Linked DNA regions of Homo sapiens: region 2 is linked to region 1. A link means that fine-mapping ties the variant in region 1 to the expression of a gene that starts in the linked region. Tissue or cell type: cerebellar hemisphere. Region 1 holds a variant in brackets; the other region holds the start of a gene. All regions are shown on one strand. Distances are from middle to middle.

Region 1 (5,232 bases):
TGTCTGAGCCTCCCGAGTAGCTGCGACTACAGGCGCATGCTAATTTTTTGTATTTTAGTAGAGACGAGGGTTTCACTGTGTTGCCCAGGCTGGTCTTGAACTCCTGAGCTCAGGCAGTCCGCCCGCCTTGGCCTACCAAAGTGCTGGGATTACAAGCGTGAGCCACCGCGCCCGTCCCACTTCAGCTTTTAAGGAAATGGGAATTCAGAGAAGTGGAGGGACTTGATCCTAGTTATACTCTTCTGTCAGAAGTAGAACCCAAAATAGGATAAAGATCTTTAGATTCTGGGTTCAGTCTTTCTTCCACATTATCTGACATTCAATAATAATATATATTTGCTGGGTAGTCATCTTTAAAGAGTCTCAGTTTAATTGGGAAGAAAAGAATTACTTATTTTCCTTTCCAAAGAAATTGTTTTAACCATCAAGTATTAAAATTGACCATTTTTTCTAGGAAAGTCCTGAAGGAATTTGTTTTCATTAATAGAAAAAATATATGTAATTATAACAACTGTAAATAAATGTGCTTGAAAATTTGAAGATGACTGAATAACAAATCCTTTCATATTTATATTGTCCTGAATTTTTATTTTTTTATTAGCAAAGTAAAAGAGAAATTGCAGACTCATATGATAGTCACAGATTCTTTTTTTTTTTTTTTTTGAGATGGAGTCTCACTCTGTCACCCAGGCTGGAGTGCAGTGGCATGATCTCGGCTCACTGCAAGCTCCGCCTCCTGGGTTCACGCCATTCTCCTGCCTCAGCCTCCCTAGTAGCTGGGACTACAGGCGCCCGCCACCACGCCCCGCTAATTTTTTGTATTTTTAGTAGAGACGGGTTTCATCATGTTAGCCAGGATGGTCTCGATCTCCTGACTTCGTGATCCGCCCACCTCGGTCTCCCGAAATGCTGGGATTACAGGCATGAGCAACCATGCCTGGCCAGTCACAGATTCTTAAAACAATAAAGATAAAATTAATTGATTCATGTTATACGTAGCTGTAATCATTTTTTCTTAATAGCAAAGAAATGCTACTAAAGAGAGCAGAGATTTATATAAAAATGGAAGATGTATACCTACCCACTAGTAGCTTACAATCAAATAGTATTGGGAGCACTTGAAAAAGACATGTTATTCCATATTGAAAGCAAACTTAATAAATGTTATCCCTTTAATTATATATAAATTAATTCATATATAATTTATATCATATATGGCAAATTTAGTCTATAATTATATATACTAATTCATTTATACATATAAAAAACTACATAATTAAAAATAAGTATATGCATTTTCAGTAAGAAAAAAATCATTTGAGAGGAGAAAAAATAGAGAAATACCACATAGAGTAGTACTATAAGTAAGTGAGTTTGGAATTCTTAAGTCTGTGAGTATGGACACAAAAATTACTGAAATTTTTAATCCTTTTTATTTACTGAGGATTATTTTGGAAAACAAGATGATTCCAAGTTGGCAAAAATAAGCAATGTTCCAAAATAATCAGTAGATATGATTTCACCAGAAAATTATGAATGTGATTGGATAAGTATTGGGTATACTGGATTTGGTTAGGTTATAGAAGGTCTTCATGTTCAAGCTAAAGCATGGTGACTCCATTCTAAAATGTATGCTAGAGACAATTCAGATTCATCTAAAATGTATGAGACATAAAAATGCCATAAGGAAAAATCTGTTTTTAGAAGACTCTACTGGGTTGTGACCATGACATAAGACCCTTCCTTGGTACCTAATTAGTGAACAATAACTCTCAGTCATAATAATCATATTAGGAGAACTGTGTTTTTATCCTGGCTCTGCTACTAAGTCACTCATGAGCATAAACAACTCTACTTCTCTGAATCTCAGTTTACTAACATGTGAAATGGGAAGGTTAAATTAGATAATCCCAAGGAGTCATTTCAGGTTAAAAGTTCCTGAAATTCGTGTTGATCCAGATCCCAAGGAATGATGTCAGTGCGTAAGCAGTGTTTTCATCCCAACTCCCCGACCCCACAAAGAATAAAGCTAAATCAATTGTTCACGGTCCAGGTTGGATGCAATTATTTTGATCCAGTCTTTACTTAATTTTAAAAATTACAAAACATAAAAACAAACAAAATTTTCCCTAAGTGGTTCAATGCAGAACACTTGGGAAGTTAAGCATATATATATATATATATATATATATATATATATAATATTTTACAACGCAATTACATATTGACAAATTCAATGAAAAAGTAGACCATCTAAATATTTTAAGAGATTAAACTTCACATTCTCTGCAACTAGAAAAACAATAAGCTACTGCATATCAGTACATGACATTCAAATATATTTTAAAATGTACTTCCCCCTCTTAAAATGGCAGTGAGTATACATTAGTGCAACCACAAAGCACTTGTAAACTTTTTTCTGTTCAACATCATCCATGTCCATTAGAACAAATTCTGTTTGGCTGGCTCCAAGGCCTTTCTTGGGCCTGAGCTTTTCATGTTTTTCTGTGTTAACAGTTACAGCCTTTATCCATAACCGCAGCCATCCATCCAGAAATGCCCACCGTCTGAGGTTGGGAGAGCCGGTGGTATGTAGCTGAATTTGAAGAACTCTTACCTTTCTAAAATAAGAACATGGATTTGATTCAAAGATTCGAGACATAACTGTATACCATAAACAGATTTTTACTTATCACTTTTTAGGCAAGAATTTTTGCTAAACTGAGTAAGAGTCAGGCCGCTGGCAGTTTTAGTGTGATTTGTGAGTGCTCTCTCTGCCTCTCTAGAGCCCCTAGTGTCAGGTAAGGGAGATAAGAAAGGACGCATGTCAGAGTTGGCTGACTTCATATCTATCTGCCTTGCTTTTAAAATACCAATGAAAGGCTGATGTTTAACAAAAGGTGCTTTATAAAAGGATCTATACAGCTGAGTTTTAATCAAATAAGTTGTAGTTCTTAATATATTACAACTCTTGAGAGCTAGCAACATATCTGGCTTGTAACAGACTATGTAACAAGGCAAATGCTCTTCTCTTTTTTCATCAAGATTCGGTGTGTGGCTGTCAGAGGAAGTCATTAGCATGTGCAGTGGAGT[G/A]CTAACTAATTAACACAGATCTAATGAGAGGGCACTGACAGAAAGCAGCCTCTTTTCTTGAAATTCAAACATCATCTCAACTTGATTTTTTTTATCTTTCTGACAAGAAAAAGTACACCTTCCTTCAACACTAGGGAAACTCAAAATGTTTATTCATTAATTTCCATTCACCTCCCTTTAATTTACAGTATGTACGCTTTAACAATGACAGAAAAGTGAATTATCAAACTTCATTGATAAATACTGACATAACAGGTTAAATGTATTTCTTAAGCACTATGTATGTGTTCTTCCACATTCCTATCGTCTACTTCAGATCTGAAATGCTGGCTCCCTCCTGGTACTCCTCCTCTAAGCAGGCTCTTCAGCATAGAATAGCAACTCAAAGGCCAAACCTTCTTGCCCAAGGTGAAAGTGGTCAGGCTTCGATTCTTCTTTAGAAAATGCTGTGCGGGGTCTCATTGGATGGCCTTGTGAGATCCGACCAGATCACTTTTGGACAAAAAGAGGAGTCAAAGAGAACTTGGGTTTCCAGAAAAAAATAAAGTGCTGCCCCCTATAAATCAGTCTCTGTGGAATAGGTGTCTTCCTAAAGAGGTAGAAATAATAGGGGGTATGTGTTGCAGATGCCCATATTTCAATAATACTGAACACTGTATCTTTAAGGGTTGCATCTTTAGGGGTTTAAAATGGACTGACTCCACTCATCTCTCTGATTTTTTCATAAGTAAGCCAGAACACCATTGACCAAGGGGTCTGAAAGATTAACCAAAGAAGTTAGTGCATATTTCAAAGCAATTATAAATAGTCTACATATGTGCATACATATATTTGAATGACAAAGTCATTTTGCAACCACTTAGGCTGAAAACAAATATTTTGGTATTTCACCTTTGTAAAGGACTTTATAATTTACAAAGCATTTTTTATGTCTTATATATCACAGATTTCTCTAAACAACATCTTACAATAGAAAGGAAAGATATTAATATCCCTGATTTTCAGATGAGACCACTGAAGCTTAGCAGTCAAATGCCTGTTGACATGTTGTAGAGCTAGACCACAGGCTTCTGTTTTCCATTCTCAGAGTTCTTTTTATTGAACCATTACTGGCTAAAGGGCTGGGACTCAAGATGCCTGAATTCTAGGCAGGCTTTTCTATATCTAGTTTGTATATGGAGCATAAAAATAAGTCACTTTAGAACTTGAAAGTGAGGAAGGTGAAAGATTATCCATGGAGATTTAGGTCATAAAACCAACACCTGATGTCTCACAACATTTATATAAAAATTCACATTAAATAGAAAAAAGCCCTTCCAGTTCAGAAAGGCTTGTCTTTAACTTGAATGAAGGTATGGCTACATCTAAAGGAATTATAAAAGAATAAGGGTTAGAAGAGGACATAAATGCTAAAGATGTAAACTGTAAAGACACAGAGGGAAATCACAGGGTAAACACTGGAACAGAGAAAGAGTGCCTTGGATCTAATAATTCCTGCCTAATTCAGTTCTAATCAAAATTGAACAGAGAGTAGCTCTATCATTCTAGAGTAGATAAATAAGCTTAAGCAATTAGAAAATCAAATGTATTTGGTTTTGTTTGTAAAGCAAGGTTTATCTCATATTTGTTTGGAAATACTGAGCATGCTATATTAGTAAACTGAGAATTCACTAAATAGTGGATTTAGGAGAATATATCTTGGTTATTTAAAGGTATGATGACATAGATGAAATAAGGAATATAAAGCTACGATGATACCATATTCTTGTAATAAAAATGAAGTAAACCAATATACTTGGAGTTGGATGAAGAAGGTAGAGGTCTTAGTTAAGAACCCCTATGCAATCATTCTTAATTGCTGTGGTAATCAATCTTCTTCATGTTAATGACATTATAGCAACAAAATCCATAGGCAAATGAAATAAGTACTAACCAGGGACTGAGCAAAGCAAGGTCATAGTACCTCTACCCAGTAGAAGGGATCAGGATAGAGTTTAGCTAGATTTTGAATAGAGTTTTTAAAGAGTGGGAGATCATATAGCCAAAAATGTGGGTGGTATATAAATGGGATTTACCAAGCCTCTGTACAGGAGTAGCACATGTGGGCACTATGTTTGCTTGCTGATTTTCTCGCTGATA
Region 2 (5,232 bases), 24 kb after region 1:
GGGGGCAGATTCTCTTGCACCGTCTCCCAACCGAGCAAGAGCTGCTTCTCCTTGCATTTGGAGTCGAGTTTTTGTGAGATCCAGGGGAAAGGTTGCTAACAAAAACACAAATGCAGGGAAAAACCCACAACATTCAGAGAAACAAACAAAAATCTAAAATCATAGGAGTAATATTTTCCCAAGACTGGTTGTTCTCAAATTTTAGAATATATCAGAATCAGCTAGGGAGATTTTAAAAATTAGAAATTTCCTAGCCCCGTGCCCATGGATTCTAATTCAGTAGGTTGAAGAGGGTTTAGAAACTTGATTCTCACACAGTCCCAAATTTAAGAATCACTACGCAAGAGCATCCTGGATCACTAGCAAAAAAAAAAAAAAAAAAAAAAAAAAAAAAAAAAAAAACAAACATTAACAATAAAAATTAAAATGACAAGCCTTGGGTTCTTTCTATTCAGAAATTTAACTTTAATATCTGTTAGTCATTAATTTTTGCTTTTCAATGGGAAATAATTTAAAGTACCATATTGTGTGCTATCCTCTTGACTGCAGCCATGATTATTTGAGATCTAATGTAACATTAGAATACTGCACTATATATTCTTATGTACTATAACAAATGCTAGATGAAGCTGAACTCTATAATTTCGTGGGTGATGTTCACATGCAGATGAATGACTGACATAATGTTTGAGATACAGAAGATGTAATGGAGTTTATAATGTTGTCTTTTATATGCAAGGGTCATAAGCTCAATATCCTTTCAATTAAAGCATATATGGAATTATTTTTCCAGCACTAAATTATATGCATCGCCTACTCATGGCCTCCTTACAAGTACTAACTGTATTTTGGAAAAATTTTTTGGTTTTAAGTTTTAAATTAGATACAGACCTTTTACCTTAATACAGTTAAGCTAAACGGCCTACATAAGGAAGATAGAGCTCATAACCTTATACAGAAAACGTCCTGAATAATTAAAATAATAACATTCAGACAAGTTCATGAACATTACTTACATTATATAAGACTTTTCAATGACCACCACCTGACACAAAACCTTAGTATACCTTTTCCAAGAGAAAACAATGTGGGGAAGGGAAGTGAATATTAAATCTTACCACTGGTTTTTGGAAAAGTTAGTATCTTGCTGACAGTTTCCCTAGAACAGAAGTAGCTTGCATAGACTTCAAGCAATATTTTATTGACATATGAAACCTGAAAAATCTTAATAGATTTCTCCATATTACACAGATTATGTCTTTCAAAATAAGTTTTGTTTTCTCGCTGGTTTGTTAAATGATGCTTCAGGTTCCTGAAGTGGTTTGTACTTAAAACCATCCCACATTTTGATTCCCATCCATTCTCCACACACAATTCTCTCCATGAATTTTTAACGAGGAATAGTCCTGTATAAAAGCCATTGAGTCAGAGGGGGACACATCAATTAAAAATAAAACCTGGAAATATCATTCAGCAATCTGCTTTTAGATCTTTTTAAGCTGATGAATTTTATTTCAGTAAAAACAATGAAAAGTAAAAATTCTCCATCATTTTCGAAAGGAGAGACATTAAAAAATAGAGGGGCTAAAAGGCAAAAATGGAAGAGCACGAAACAACTGATCATGGCTGGCTATGCTAGAATTAAAAAATAAACTCTTAAAATAGGACCAACTAACATTTACAAATGATAACGCATCAGAACTGTTCTTTTTATTTTTTTGTAACAGGCAAGAAAATGTAAGGGTAATCTTAAAATACACAGTTAAGGCTTCACAGGAAACACATGAGTATACTACTCACAAAATCCTTGGAATAAACGCTACTTGCTCATTCAAGGGCATCATCATTCCACTCTAGATGGCCTCTTAAAGTTTTTTCTTACTCATGTAGGCAGATGTAACTGCTCTTCTATGCTTTTATGACACCTAATAATATCTTCATTATAACAAGTAGCACATTATAATTGTCTTTCTCTGTCTCCCCAGCAGCCTGTAAGAAGGTCAGAACTGGGTCTTTTCAAATATATATCCACAGTCCCTGGTATTGTAGGAATTATAAAAATGTCGCAACTAATGGGTGTCCTGCCTTGGGTTTAGCAATCATATATTATTGACTTCTCAGAATCCTGCAAGGTAAACAGTATAGATGAATTACACTCAAAGAGGTCAAGTAGTCGATGCTCTGTGAGTGGCAGGTTAATAACGGAAGTCCCACAAGGTAGGTCCACAACTTGGACCCACAAGATAATGACAGTGTGGCTGTGTAAGACTATAAACCACAGAGATGATCTCAGTAAGGATGGAAAACAGATTACGTTTTTAAAAAGGTCATCCTCATGAAAAGGAAAATGATTCCTACAGAGGAATGACAGCTCGCGAAGCTTCTTAAAGTACAACATTCAAGCACCACAGCACATGCCTAAGGGAAGCATTAGAAGAGATTAGAAGGAAAAGGCCGTGGAGACCTCAATCCCTCCTCCTCCCACCGCGGGCCTGGCCTCCACCGCCACCTCTGCCAGGCGGGCATGGAAGGGGCGACCTCTCCGATGCGCACTGCCGGGCGCGAAGCCGCCCGCGCACCCTCCCCCAGCGCGGCGCGTGCCACTGGCCCGGGAGGCCCAGGCGTGGGCAGCCGGGTACCTAGCTCGGCCACGGTAGCCGCGCAGCCGGACAGTAGGAATTTGCTCGCTCGGGGCCATCTCTGGGTCAGCGGCAAAAGCCTCTCCTCCTCCTCCGGGACGGACATTCAGCAGTAGCGCAAGACGATAACGCACTCCTTCTCGCCGCTGCGCTGCACCGCGCCGCGGCGGCCGCTTCCCTGCCAGGGCGGCCCCTTTTCAACCGGCGAGTGGCCGGGTGAGGACCATTTCCCTCGTTCGGCTCGGCCGGGTGGACCCGCAACCTTCCTAGCAGTCCCAGCTGGAGTGGTCCAGCTGCCCCTTACACCCCAGAATAGAAAAACACAGCGGAGCCCAGGAGGTTACTGGGCAATGTAGTCCGCCGGGCTCCGCTACGTCTCTGATTGGCCGGCCGCGGGTCCCTCTGCGGCTCCGCCCCCGGCCTCCATGGCAACGCGGCTGGTTCTCGCCCGTCAGTCCTAGCCCGGCCCTGCCCCTCCTTGCATTTTTTCCGCGCTGGCTGAGATTCAAAGAGAAGTGGAGGTGGGAGGGAGCGACAATGGAAAAATCACCTGAAAACTGGGACAGAGGAAGGAAGCTACAGTTACGAAGGAGAGCTGCAAAAGTTGCAGCAGAAAGGTTGGGAGTCCCGACAGGTTCCGTAGCCCACAGAAAAGAAGCAAGGGACGGCAGGACTGTTTCACACTTTTCTGCTTCTGGAAGGTGCTGGACAAAAACATGGAACTAATTTCCCCAACAGTGATTATAATCCTGGGTTGCCTTGCTCTGTTCTTACTCCTTCAGCGGAAGAATTTGCGTAGACCCCCGTGCATCAAGGGCTGGATTCCTTGGATTGGAGTTGGATTTGAGTTTGGGAAAGCCCCTCTAGAATTTATAGAGAAAGCAAGAATCAAGGTATGTGGTCGTGGCAGACGGGGTCTCCAGAGGAGACAATGCTTTCTTTTTTAAACTTTCTTTCATTGACTCTTAAGTGCAGGGCTAGAACACGGGGAACATACCTGCTTGCCTCAACTAAAGGATCTAGTCATTTCTGAATTCCTCTACTAACAATTAACAACAATATCCTGTGCAAAATTTTGCGAAAGAAATGAAATACAATTGCAGCGTGCATCGACATTTTTGGAAGTAGAGATTAACTTTTCGTATTTTTACTTCATCGAAGTTAAGTTCCAAATGTGTATGTGTTAAGTAAATGTTTTCAGTAATTGGGAAAGATAAAGTGTAATCCAATTTAAGTTTGTGAAAATGAGTAATTCGTATCCAAATTGGAGTTAACACCAAAGTATTGTACAAATTGCTTGCACAGTTGGTCCGTACACAATAAACAGGCTCTGTATTTTTAGCTGACGTTGTTATTTGATGATGATGTACTCCATTTTCACTACGGCCTGAAGAGACTAGTAATCCTCCTTGTAGTAGATGTTTTTGTCTTGAAAGTATCTTTTAAATGTCTGAGCACTTTAAGGAACAGACCTTTATTAATGTCTTTTAAGTTTTATTCAATTTCCAGTCACAAATATTTTATGGTATTTGATTGTCTAATAAATTTGTATGATATTATAATTATTCTTATGAATTATAATACTTTCTGTGGTGACCCATTTTCCATCTGGTTAGCCCAATTTGTAGAATGAATTTATACGTAGTAGCATTATTTTACCACTGATCATTTGCCTTCAAAATCTCTGAGATTCCAATTTAGTAAAAAACATATAGAAAATTAAAGAGAACTAAGATGAAAATAAAAATAACCCAGAATATCACACCAGCTGTACTGTAAAAATTTAGTGTATTTATATTATTTTGGTCATTTTCCTATGTATTTACAACTATTTAATGAACAACAATGGAATAATAGTATAATACTCTTTTATGTGCTTTTGATTTTAACATATAATGTGAATGACTTTCCTGTACCATGAAATACTTTGAATCTTCCTTTTATGGCTATATTTTGTCATAGGAGGATACAATAGTTTACTTAAATCTCAATAGTTGGGTTTATAGGTTGCTGCCAAACTTTTTTCTTTCAGCCAGTGCTTCAGTGAACATTCTTGCGTGTTTGTGTGCATGTATTGATTGTGTGGTTGTACATTTTGCAATTATCTGATTGTTTACTCAGAATAAATTCCTAGGAGTAGAATTGCTGAGTCAAAGGACATGCACACTTAAATTGTTTATATGAATGTGTTACTTTTGGAAAAAGAAGTATGAATATGCAATTTTTATTTTCCATTGACTGTATGCAATTGCCTAACTTCTCAAATCCTGGGCCATACTGAATACCATAATTCTTTGCAATTTTTGCTAGTCTGATAGATGAAACATTATATCTCCTAAAGAAATACTCCTTTGTCTCCCACAGCCTTCCTTATGCATATGATCTTGATAATTTTTAAGGAACTGTTTTTTTACAAGCTTGTGTCAGAAGGCTAAATATTTGTGAGGTCTCTATTGCTTTCCTGACTAAACAAAACAAGTTATTGCTGGACTCTGTGTCTCACACCTGTAATCCCAACACTTTGGGAGGCAGGGGTGGGAGGATTGCTTGAGGCCAGGAATTTAAGACCAGCCCGGGAGATATAGCAAGACCT

Evidence for each region. PIP is the estimated chance that this variant, and not a neighbour inherited with it, causes the effect.
Region 2: it holds the start of SLC25A27, and the variant in region 1 is fine-mapped to the expression of SLC25A27 in cerebellar hemisphere (GTEx, PIP above 0.99). The same link has a PIP of 0.9 or more in anterior cingulate cortex, atrial appendage, caudate, cerebral cortex, nucleus accumbens and pancreas.

What each region holds. Positions count from the first base shown.
Region 1 is chr6:46,675,000-46,680,231 of GRCh38, reverse strand. SLC25A27 (solute carrier family 25 member 27) reads right to left here. Exons shown (of 9, transcript NM_004277.5): 9 at 2,042-3,849. The coding sequence ends at 3,778. All of the region lies in intron 1 of TDRD6-AS1 (TDRD6 and SLC25A27 antisense RNA 1), which reads left to right. Among named protein-coding and RNA genes, the nearest start is that of TDRD6, 10 kb to the left of the region's middle. The variant G/A (reference allele first, on the strand shown) is at 3,094.
Region 2 is chr6:46,650,706-46,655,937 of GRCh38, reverse strand. SLC25A27 (solute carrier family 25 member 27) reads right to left here and starts at 2,963. Exons shown (of 9, transcript NM_004277.5): 1 at 2,640-2,963; 2 at 1-95. The coding sequence starts at 2,745. It overlaps CYP39A1 (cytochrome P450 family 39 subfamily A member 1), which reads left to right and starts at 3,120. Exons shown (of 12, transcript NM_016593.5): 1 at 3,120-3,532. The coding sequence starts at 3,356. RefSeq lists silencers at 2,526-2,625, 3,056-3,145 and enhancers at 2,806-2,935, 3,166-3,215.